Linked DNA regions of Homo sapiens. The protein of the gene in region 2 interacts with the protein of the main gene of each other region in a biochemical or structural test. Each region holds a gene or a part of one and is shown on either strand. Other genes may lie near its edges. The genes, in order: MEF2D, CABIN1 and GRM1.

Evidence for each region.
Region 1: the proteins of CABIN1 (region 2) and MEF2D form a complex in vitro, tested with the Homo sapiens proteins (2 studies listed by BioGRID).
Region 3: the proteins of CABIN1 (region 2) and GRM1 form a complex in vitro, tested with the Homo sapiens proteins (one study listed by BioGRID).

Annotation. Positions count from the first base shown.
Region 1 is NC_000001.11:156,499,204-156,502,803, forward strand, and holds the start of MEF2D (myocyte-specific enhancer factor 2D), read right to left. Parts: upstream 1,573-3,600; 5' UTR 1,283-1,572; intron 678-1,282; exon of another isoform or gene 229-677; intron 1-228. UniProt on the Homo sapiens protein: Transcriptional activator which binds specifically to the MEF2 element, 5'-YTA[AT](4)TAR-3', found in numerous muscle-specific, growth factor- and stress-induced genes.
Region 2 is NC_000022.11:24,056,291-24,060,108, reverse strand, and holds part of CABIN1 (calcineurin-binding protein cabin-1), read right to left. Parts: coding exon 3,749-3,818; intron 883-3,748; coding exon 746-882; intron 186-745; coding exon 1-185. UniProt on the Homo sapiens protein: May be required for replication-independent chromatin assembly. May serve as a negative regulator of T-cell receptor (TCR) signaling via inhibition of calcineurin. Inhibition of activated calcineurin is dependent on both PKC and calcium signals.
Region 3 is NC_000006.12:146,026,918-146,030,735, reverse strand, and holds the start of GRM1 (metabotropic glutamate receptor 1 isoform alpha precursor), read right to left. Parts: upstream 1,675-3,818; 5' UTR 1,219-1,674; coding exon 519-1,218; intron 1-518. UniProt on the Homo sapiens protein: G-protein coupled receptor for glutamate. Ligand binding causes a conformation change that triggers signaling via guanine nucleotide-binding proteins (G proteins) and modulates the activity of down-stream effectors.

The DNA.
Region 1 (3,600 bases), on a different chromosome or scaffold from region 2:
ACCCTGAATTGCTGCGGAGACCCACTGAAGGGATAGGAGGAGGAGTGGATAAGGGCCACCTCCACCCCAAAGCAAAGAAACCAGGACTCTGAGGAAAACTCAAATGGGGGTTGGGCACAGCAAAGAGGGACACAGGATCCCCCCCAACCCGCTATACCCTCCCCCAACCCATCAACAATGCACCAAGCAATGGGAGGCAGAGGGAGGCTCCCATTCAGAAGGGCAAACCTGGGATAACCCGGTCGGTGGCTTCTAGAGTGCCTTCCTTTCAGGAGGAGTCCTCGGAAGGCTGCTGAGAGGACAGCGTGATTCACTAGGGGGAGGGGGCCCCTTTCCCCATCCCCCTAAGACCCGAACCTGGTAGGAGAGAAGCTGGCATTGGAGTGGGGGACTAAAAGCATTTTGGTCTCCTTGGCCCATCCTCCCAAAAGCCCCCCCAAACTCCCTAAACCCCCGCTCGCAGCCCAGCTCCGCCTGCCATAGGTGGAAAGGACTAGAGAACTCTTGCCCAGATGTTGAACAGCTGCAAACTTCTGGCCAGGGAGTTCTCCAGTTGGGGTTACTGACAAACCACATCAGGGGTCTCGGAAGCGGGGCTAGGAGGTCTCAAGGAAGGGTCCTGCGTGCCCACCTCGTGGCGACTCCGCGTCCCAACTCCACAGGCACCCGGCAAACACGGGCCCCGGAGACACACACACTCACACACCCCAACCCACTACCCCGGTGTCATCTGAACAACATCCCCCCTCCCTCCCCCGCTTCCCAAACAGCTGCGGCTCCCCCCGCCTCCACCCTCCCGCCGCCCTCCCAGGCCCCCTTCTGCACCATTTCGGGCCAAGGAGGAGGGAACAGGCGGCGAGAGGAGGGAGAGGGAGGGAGGGCCGGCTGTTAAAATGTCAGTCGCTCCCGACTGTCACCGGAGACCCCCTCGGAGGATGGCGCCCCGTCCCAGACCGCTCGGAGGCCGTCGTAAACCCCCTACACGAACAGGCGGGCGCGCCCCCAATCCGCCCGTCCCCACCCCGTACTCCCAACACCCAAGGGAATTGCAGCCCACTCCACTTGTCCCCCACGACAGACTCCCTGACACAAACAGTCCCCTAGGTAATCCCCGCCAACGCCACACGAAAACACGGCCCGCTTCGCGAGTTCCTCCCGGCCCGGGGGCTGCCCCATCCCACCCCTCAGGGGGACGGTCTAGACCACCCTCCACCCCAACCCCTGGACCGGGTGGGGGAGGGGGCCTCTTAAAGTGGCAGGCGCATTATTTTTCTCTACTCACCAGCCCGGCTGGGGGAACGGTGTTGTCACGGCAAAGAGCGGGTAGCCCTCGCCCCTGGTCCGGGGGATCTTCAACACCGGGAAGCCGCAGCTCCGGGCGGGGAGAATAATAAATGAGGCCGGCGTCCGCGCGGGCCCTGGGCGGCGCCGTGAGGCCTGGGCCCCCGTCGTGGGCGCGGGGGCCAGCAGGCGGGCGGCAGGCAAGCGGGGAACCGGGGCCGAGCGCCTGAGCCGCCTCGGCTGTTGTTGATATTTTGCTTCCTTCCTCCTTTCGGGCTCCAAAGGTAACTCCTCCAGCCCCCGGGAGTCGAGGCCGACGTAGGCACAGCTCAGCCTAGCTTGAGGGGTGGGGGGAAAGGGGTGACGGACAGGCGTGGGGGCCAATGGGAGGCACCTGTGGGGGTGGCGGGGCGGAGCCGGGGCTGGGGCGGTCCCGAGGACGCGGCCCCGCCCCTCGCTTCCCCAGGGCTGGCCGGGCCAGGCCGGGTCGGCCCCCACCCCACCGCCCTCCCAAGCTAGGCTGCGGCGCTGGGAGCGGCGGATCCCTCCGCCTGCCGGGAGGGAGGGAGGAAGGGACGAAGCGAGGCAAAGTAGGGAGGCGAGACCCAGAGGCCTTTAAAGGGATCGGTCCGCTCCCACGGTGCCCCTCGGAGCACGCCGGCCGCCCGCCCGCCCGCCTGGCGCTGCTGCCACCGCGTGCTCCAGGAGGTCCTTTCCGGGGAGGCCGTGCGAGCTGCACGCACACTCTCAACACGCGCCACCTCGGCACCTCCTCGCGGCCCCGGGCCCCAGGAGAGTTGGGAGGTGGGAGTCTAAGTAGATAAATTAAGGGGAGACTGGAAGTGGTGAAAAGCTCCCATCTCCCCCACTTGGTGTGTGACAAAGCCCCACTCACGGGCGACATTCTTGGGGTTGGGGGGTGTTACCTAGGGAGCTCAGTTGCTCCCTCTACCTGTGACAGGCCCCCTCCGGTCCCAGGGCCCGGCTCGGCAGACGCCCAGCAATTTAAAGCGACAGCTCATAGTTCTTGGGTGACCTAATCTCCAGTGCTTGCGGGGCCCCACAGCACTTACTGCCGAGGGGGCAATTTAAAGGGGCGGGACCCTAATTCCTCCCCACCTCCCGCCGCACAGTAAACACCCAGAAATGTCTTATTAAAGAAGCAGTAGTAGCTCTTTAAAATTTTTTATTTTTATATTCCTGGTTGCTCCAGGGTGTGGTGAATATTTACGTGCCCTACAACAGGAGTGTGGGTGCCATGCCTACTGGACAACTGACCCGTCAGGCTTCAGCATCCCTGTTACTTCCAAGTCCTGCTGCTTTCTCCCAAGAGCGTAAGGAAATGATGGCATCTGGCTTAGATCTCAAAGAACCTTGCAGAACAGAAGGGCACTCACTCAGTTCTTCACACACCCCGAATTTTTTTTTTTTTTTTTTTGAGACGGAGTCTTTCTTCGTCGCCCAGGCTGGAGTGCAGTGGCGCGATCTTGGCTCACTGCAACTTCCGCCTCCCAGGTTCAAGCGATTCTCCTGCCTCGCCTCCCCTCCCGCCTCCCGAATAGCTGGGACGACAGGCGCACGCCCCCACGCCCGGCTAATTTTTTGTGTTTTAGTGGAGATGGGATTTCACCGTGTTACCCAGGCTGGTCTCGAACTCCTGAGCTCAAGCAATCCGCCCGCCTCGGCCTTCCAAAGTGCTAGGATTACAGGCGTGAGCCACCGCGCCCAGACACACACCCTGATTTCTGGCTGGATCTGATTTACCGGACAAAGACTCCAATATATAGAGAGAGGCAACATGTCATTGTGGTTAGAAATGTCAACTTTGCCGTCAAGCTGTCCTGGTTCAGATCCTCACTCCACCATTCATTAGCTGTGAACACAGGCATATTATTTAACTTTCCCCTACCTCATGGTGACCATGACTAGAGATGGTGATAATAGTAGCTAACTCAGAAATTTAGTGTGAAGATTAAATTAGTTCTTCTAAGCAGATTGCTTAGTACAGTGTCTTATGCTGTATAATAACCCAAACCAGACCATTGGGCCAAGGGCTGGTCTGCAAAGAACCCTCTAGGCCTCCATTGGCTCATGCAAGCCTTAAAGGAGGTGAGTTCAGTGGAATTGCTCTGCAAATAGGTTGGAGACTTATCTTGTGTGTCCTAAGACAGGAAGCCAGCAAGCTCCTACTTCCTTGGCCTCAGTTTCCAACCCTTCTACCTGACCCCCCCCTTTCAGGAAACAGTGTCCCACCGTGTCCCCAAATACAGCTTCTCAGTTCCTCATTGGATCTGGGAGGCTGGGGCCCCAACACCAGAA
Region 2 (3,818 bases):
CGGGTTGGGCAGGCTGGTGCTGTGCCTCCTCCAGCTGTGGTAGACGCTGAGCACGACCTCCGCCAAGCCTGGAGGCCACCTTACCAAGAACTTGTGGCCCATGGCTTTCAGGTAGCGCATCATCAGCTCCAGGATGCCCCCGTTGGTTAGGTTCTCCAGCAGGAACTCATGCACGTCCTGCTTTTCTGCCCGGGGAGCAAGAACAACCTGACTTGAATAAAGAGTACCTTCCATGCCAGGGTCTCCTATTTACTTTGGGACAGTAAAGACTGTTCCCTCCCTCTACCATCTGATCCAGGTGGACATGATACCACGTTGTGGTGCTGAGATCAGGCTACTGGGTTCAATGCCTGGCTCCAACCCTCAGCAGCTATGATTGAGCCTCTCTGAATCTCCGTATCTAAGGTGGACATCAAAAGGGCAGACCTCCAAGTGCTGCCATGTGCACTAATCTCACTCAACAGTTATACACTGATACACACTCAACAGGTGTGCTTATATAGATTCAATTTGCAAAGCGAAGTCTCTGAATTTGGCCATAAGAAAGCATAGCAAGTATGAGCCTGGACATTTCAGAAGACCTCCAAGCTGACCACAGGGCTTAGGTCCAAGACTAATCCAGGCAGACTCTTGGCCACACTAAAAAACACCCCAGAACCATTCTCCCAGAACAAAACATAAGCAGGTTATAGGATAGTGGGAAGAAGAATTCCCAAAGTGAATGGTCACACTGCTCGATTCCTACCAGATTCCATGAATGTGGCTGAGTCAAATGACAGCCTTTGAGGCCCAATGCTTGGGAAGCTTTCCAGTTTGGCTTCTGACTGGACTTCATAGTTATTAAAGGAATCATCTTCCTCCTCAGGGTCCAGCTTTCTTAACCTGCATGTAACATGCCAAAATCACAAAGTCACAACACACGTTCTGACACAAGCATCTGAACTCTTCCTGTTAGAGAAACTAAATCTGAGTCAGGAAGAAGGCAGCTAAAATAAGTGGGTGGTGGGGTCCAGAACCCAGGCCTCCAGGAGGCTCTGCCTCTCTCCAGGGCCTCATGAGCCAGCATTTGGTCTGTATCCTGTCTCGGTCATTCATCTCATCAACAGATGATTACCGAGCACCAGCTATGTGCCAGGCACTGTGCTAGGCACCAAATACAGCAGCCCTAAATGTGGCAGATCCTGCCTGCAGTAAGCTTACCCTCTAGAGAGACACAGCCAATAAGCAGGTACACAAACTAACCCAAATAAGGACCACCTCACAACAGAGTGCTTGAGACTATGGGTCAAAAGGGCCCTGCTTTAGAGAGCAGGGTCAGAGAAAGCCTTTGAGAGGGGATAATGTTCATGCTGACACACTGGAGGAGGAGAAGGGCTTGCAATACAAAGATGCAGGACAAGAACAGGTACAAAGGCACAGGCCAGAAGAGCACCTGGTGTGTTCTAGGACCTCATGGGAGCCCAACAACTAAGGTGGAAAGCGGATAGATAGGTGGGAGTTTGGGGGATACATCAAGCTCATCTGAACTTGGTCCTTCCGTGGCTCCTCACAAAGCTGTGGGTGGGCCCAGTCTCGGGACTGGGGATGCCTCTCCTGGCAGGCACTCCTCCCAAGGACCCATTTCAGCCAACCTTGTGGTGTTCCCTCAACCCAGAACCCCTGCAGCATAAACACTCAGGGCACTTGTGAATGTCTTCATTCACGTATTGCACACACTCCCAGGGTGACTCCATCAGGCGAGCTACCATGTTGCTCTTGCCTTGACCATTCAAAGAAGCAGAAACTAAGTTAAGTGTGGTTGCTCAAGATTGTAATCTCAACATTTTGGGAGGTGGAGGCAGAAGGACGGCTTGAGGCCAGGAGTTCAAGATCAGCCTGGGCAATATAGCAAGACCTCATCTCTACAAAAAACAAGAAATAAAATTAGCTGGGCATAGTGGTGTGCACCTGTGGTCCTGGGTATTCAGGAGGATCCCTTGAGTCCAGGAGTTCAAGGCCACAGTGAGCTATGATTGTGCCACTGTACTCCAGCCTAGGCAACAGGGCAAGACCCCATCTCTAACAAAAATAAACAACAAAGGAGCAGACACTAAACCACAAACGAAACCAACAACTAAAATGAAGATTAAAAAGAAAGTCGAAACCATCCAGGTAAATGGGACTAGGGAACAAGACCTTGGAGTAAAAAGCAGGGCTAAGGGGAATATAGGGTCACTCAAATCTCTTGGCACCATCAACCAAAGAACAATCCTGCAGTTCTTCCAAAGAGAAACTTTCTTCTGGTATTACCCCTTAAGAAAAATTCATCAGAAGGCACTGCAGCCCCACTTTGGTTCTGCGTCAAGTACTGAGAACAATCATTATTTCTAAGCATTTCACCTTCACCTCAGAAAGACAACAAATTAAGAAAATTAGGAATCTTGCTGTAAAATAAATTTACAAACCACCTAAAGCTTCTGGCTTCTCCTTCACCACTTTGATGTTGTTACCACTGAAATAAACTGTCATGGGAAAGAACTAGATAGTTTAACTCCTGTTTAAAGATGGCATATCGAACACATATGGTTAGCTCCCAAACTCCATTCCAGTAACAACGAAGGAGTAAAAAAGGTATAAACTCACAAAGACAGAAGATAGGCGAGGATGCCCCAGCAGACAAAAAATGTACCAGCCAACTGTTAGAAGGCAGATGGCCCAGTGCAAATGAAGAATGGTGTCTGCCGAGAGAGGCCTCTCCACTCAGCTAAGGGAGGAGAAAGGGGAGTATTAAGAAACCAACCCACTGGCACCATAAACTCCAGGAAGGCTCAGAAATTGAGGATCCTAAAGCCTCTGAAGGAGGTGAGCAGGCAAGGACAAAAAGCAGAAGGACTGGCCGGGCGCCGTGGCTCATGCCTATAATCCCAGCACTTTGGGAGGTTGAGGCGGGCAGATTACGAGGTCAGGAGATCAAGACCATCCTGGCTAACACAGTGAAACCCCGTCTCTACCAAAAATACAAAAAATTAGCCAGGCGCGGTGGCAGGCACCTGTAGTCCCAGCTATGCGTGAGGCTGAGGCAGGAGAATGGCATGAACCCGGGAGGTGGAGCTTGCAGTAAGCCCAGATAGCACCACTGCACTCCGGCCTGGGCGAAAGATCAAGACTCCGTCTCAAAAAAAAAAAGGCAGAAGGACTGGTGAAAACCTAAGTAAGAAGCACTGGGGACCAAGTCCCTCCCAGCTCTGGGGAGCCTGGTTCCTGCTTGTCCCCTAGGCTCCTGAGAAGCACTAAGAATGAGTGAAACCCAGGAATACTTCACAAGCTCCTCCTCTACCTTCTCAGAATGCAAGGGAATCCTGCTGAGCCTGGAGCAAATCAAGTAGACACGGACTCCCTGAAAGCAGGAGGGAAGCTCCCTTCCATGGGGTTTTCAGGGCATCTGCACCCAAGGCACAGCACCCCTCTGCCTCCCAGCAACAAATAGATGTCTTGTAAATACACAGGGACATGAGTATGTTGCTTCTAGCTCTCAAAAGATGAACAAGTCACAGCTCCTGACTTCAGGAATTTCAGAGGTGGGAAGAGGCGAGAAAAATCCAAGATCCTACTCCAGTGAGATTTGTGCTTCAGACATCTGCACAGATGTTATGGGAACACAGAGGAGGAGACCAGAGAAGAGGGTGGCAATGGAATGAGAAATGTTACTGATGGTGTATGCTGGAGCTTTGTGGGTTTGTTTCTGACAATCAGAAAAAATACACAGTACCTGGACGGCAAGAACTTCATCAGAAGCTCCTGGAAGTCTACTTTCTCTTCTTTTTTGCACTTGGTGTTTC
Region 3 (3,818 bases), on a different chromosome or scaffold from region 2:
ATTCACAGGAAAGTTTTGGATATGTAAGAAGGGGTACAAGAGGACAAAGAAAATCTTCAACTGTTAAAGAAAGATAAAGCTTTGAAGTCCTATTTGTGGAATAGTAACTTCTTTTTGCCAATCACTCACACTGAATTAACTCATTACACCTGGAAAGTCATAGCCAGTCACTGAAGGGCAATATAACACCTTGGACAAATAAGCCTTCCAAACGCAAACTCAAAATATGAGGGCAAACAAGTATTCAAGTCAAATCTACTGCTGGACACTTTGCATGGAAAGTTTGATACCCTTTCAGCTCCTATTATCCTCAGATATTCTATGGGGTACAATTTTCCTACACTATAATTGTAAGGAAATGAGGATAAAAGGCAATGCCTGGGTGGGCAGTACTGAGAAGGGTAAACTCCGTTCCCCACAGTGCTAGAAATAAACAGGAACAATACTATGATCCCAGGAGCACATCATGCATTGCCCTGACTTTCTCAGTACCCTTCTTTCCCAAATATAATGCCTACCTTCCGTGTGGACTGCAGAGACATAGGTCCAATTGTAACGTTTGACTATGTCAAGCATGGCCCTTGCCTGCAAAGTGTCAGAAGGGACAACCCTCAGGAAGTATTTGTACAAAGTTTTGTCACTCAGGTCGATGCTTGTGGCTGAATAAGCGATCTGGGGGATGTCGAAGAGCTGGAGCAGGTTCTGCACTTGAATGGCTACAGAGCTGGAGCCGGGACCGATCACTCCCGCAATGGGCTTCTTAGTCCTGCCTGGGGGGAGGGACTGGCCGTCAGGCAGACACCGGTTGATCCCATCCTTCTCATCTCGAATGGAAATCAGAGAGTCCCTAATGAACTCAATGCTCTGTTCCAGAGCCACGGAAGAGTGCCAGCAGGAGTCCCGGATCTCACTGCCCAGGGTGATGTTGGGCAGGAGGACCGGGTCCGCGTTGATCTTATCCAACGTGTGGAACATGGCCTCCACCCTCTGGATGCCATACTGCTCCCTGATCTCCCCACACTTCCTCTCGGGCACTTTCTCGGCCGGAGGCTGGTGATGGACTGAGAAGAGGGCTCCAATGATGACATCTCCGTCCATTCTGGCCACCGAGCGCTGAGACGACGCTCCTGCCAGCAACACTTTCCTGCCGGGGCTTCTGGGGAGAAGGGACACCTCCAAAAAGATCGCTGGGAAAAAAAACAAAAGGAGCCCGACCATGGTGGTGAGGACGAGGTCCACAGCCTGCCAGCCGCGTTCCCACGCTGGTCCCGCTGCAGGCTCCCGGCGCGCACCCCCAAGACGCCCAGCGCCGCCTCTCCCGGAGTGGTGCCCCTCGCCAACAATGGTCGTCCAAGGCCTTTGCCTCCTCCACCACCGCCTCCTTCCCCTTCGTCTCCTCCTCTGGGTCCTCCACGACCGCCTCTACAAGCTGGAGGCGTTTGTAAGGGAATTCGAGTCCCCGTTCTTCACCGGTAGTGCATCAAGGTAAATTGATCAAGAGTACAGTGGAAGTCGTGTTGGCAGCGGTGAGCTAGATGCTGCTGACAAAAGACAGAGAAAAATCACAACCTTGTCATCAGAGGACCTGTGTTAAAACTCTGGGGTCTATAATGTTAACAGTTGCCTTGTCCGTTTCATTTCGGCACATCCTGATATCGGCTGCAGGAACAGCTTGGAGCGCAGCTGTGGTCACTGAGGAAGGCGGGGTGTCCTGCCCCCTCTGTCCTCACGGGTCCAGGCGGCGCAGAGCCCCGCCAACTCGCCCGCTCCTCCAACCTTAAGTCGTTTCCTGGTCCCCTAAAACCTATCATGCTTTCTAACTTGGAGGGCGGTGGGGAAGGTGAGCAGAGAGGAGGGGAGGAGCTAGGTCCTTCAACCCAAGAGAACTTTCCGGATTGGAAAAGATCAACTTTTTTTCAGAAGAAAATTTGGAAACTCATTGTAAAGGTGGAAGCGCGACTTTAAAATAAACGTAAACAAAGGATGCACCTTTTACTTTAATTTTGAGGGGTTGAAGAAGCCCTGACATAAAATCAGCTGTAAATATAAATTTGCCAGCTTGAAGAAAATCCACATTAGTTACTAAGGCAACGCCTGGTAAAGTCTCCGTATGGAGGAGTTTGGTATGTTTCCCCCGTAAGAAGTCAGGCTTGCTGTGTATGTTCAAGAAGAAGGGGTGCAGATAAGGTAACTTGTTTCCCGCGGTGGGTGGACGGGTTAGGGGGGGTCCTGCGCTTGCTTTGGGGTTTGCATAGTTGCTAGAAAGGGAACGGAGGGGAGCTTCCGGGTTGCTCTCGCCGCGGCAGCCTGAGCCCTGCCGCCTTCAGGACCCTGGACAGTGCTCGGTCCAGCCAGACATTCCCTGGCAGGGCCTGCAAGGGACGCTTTGACCAGTGAGTTGCAATTCCCTGACCCGCTTTGCTCTTTCAACCTCCCTCCTCTGAGTTCTTTACCCATACACACACACACACACACACACACACACACACACACACACACACACTCCCTTCCACTCGAGTCCCCACCGCCCCTCCGCCCTCATTCTCATCACCTTGCACCGCTTGTGCAGGTATATATCCAAACCCACCCGCTTGGGGACAGAGGCGCCAAATCTCAGCCGCCTGCGGGGCTGAAGTTGGCTCCCTCTCCCGTTCCTCCCCTGCTCCTTTTCTCAAGGTGAGAGTCGACGAAAAGGGGGCTATGGGAGCGGGCGAGGAGAGCACAGGAGGTGAGGCAGAAAAAGGAGAAAGAAAACCCAGGCACCCATTGGTCCCGACTCTTCCTGAGGATACAGGACGAAAAGAAATACATAAGCGAGAATGCGCCTGGGACCCGGAGGAAAATCTGATAGACTGGGACTTTGTCTGCCGTTGTGGGTGGGTTTCACCGGAGGAAGTGTCCGCTCACCTGAGTCTGTTTGGAGGACATGGACTTGAGACATACCTGAGTACCTGAGTCGGGGTAGACAGCGCTATGGTCCCGGGGCCAGAGGACCGTGGCCACGCTCGGCTTGCAGACGCCTCAGCTCTAATCCAGACGGTGCAAGGATGCGATCTGGGCTGTACACTAGTGCCCTCTTTCTTCAGCACTATTTTACCGCAAGGGAAAAAGAGGGGGAGGGAAGAAAAAAAAAAACAGGTCACCCAAGGCTTGTCTATTATCTCATGTATAAAAATCAGTCGTTTGATAGAGGGAGGAGGGGAGACAAACTAGGAGGAAGTGGGGAATATTAATTCCTTTACTATATGAGGGGTCGTATAGAAGCTGCCAGATACGTGAATAGTCAGACAATCTGGCCAAAGAAGTGGAGAACTGCCTAGGCTGCTTTGGGGTAGATATCTTTGTATATATATCTCAGGGACTCAAATATATTTTCTCTTTCTGCGAGTAAAGTCCCTACAGAGGGAAACAGAGTGTAAACACATGTACAGACATCTAAAGAAAGGCTCTATTAGTAGATTGCAAGGGAAATCAGGAAGAGGCTGCATAGGGTGGGAGAAGGGAAAGGACAGGCATGCCCATTATGAATTAAGGTATGCCAAATGAAGAGAGACATATTGTGGCTGCATTTTCAGGTCAAGATGTAACTAAATTGAGAATGAGAGTCAGGTCACATGAAAATACTGGAGTGACAAATACTTATCCAAATTCCTCCCAGGCGGCCATCACCTTCCCTACAGGTCTATGGTGTTGCTTCTGACTGTGTGAAAAGCGGAAGTTAAATCACATTCCTCTGGGAACATGTTGGCTGAGCAGAATGTGGCCCGGCTTTTTCAGGGGAAAAGACAAGTGACAGTGTGTCTTTCTACTCTTGTTCA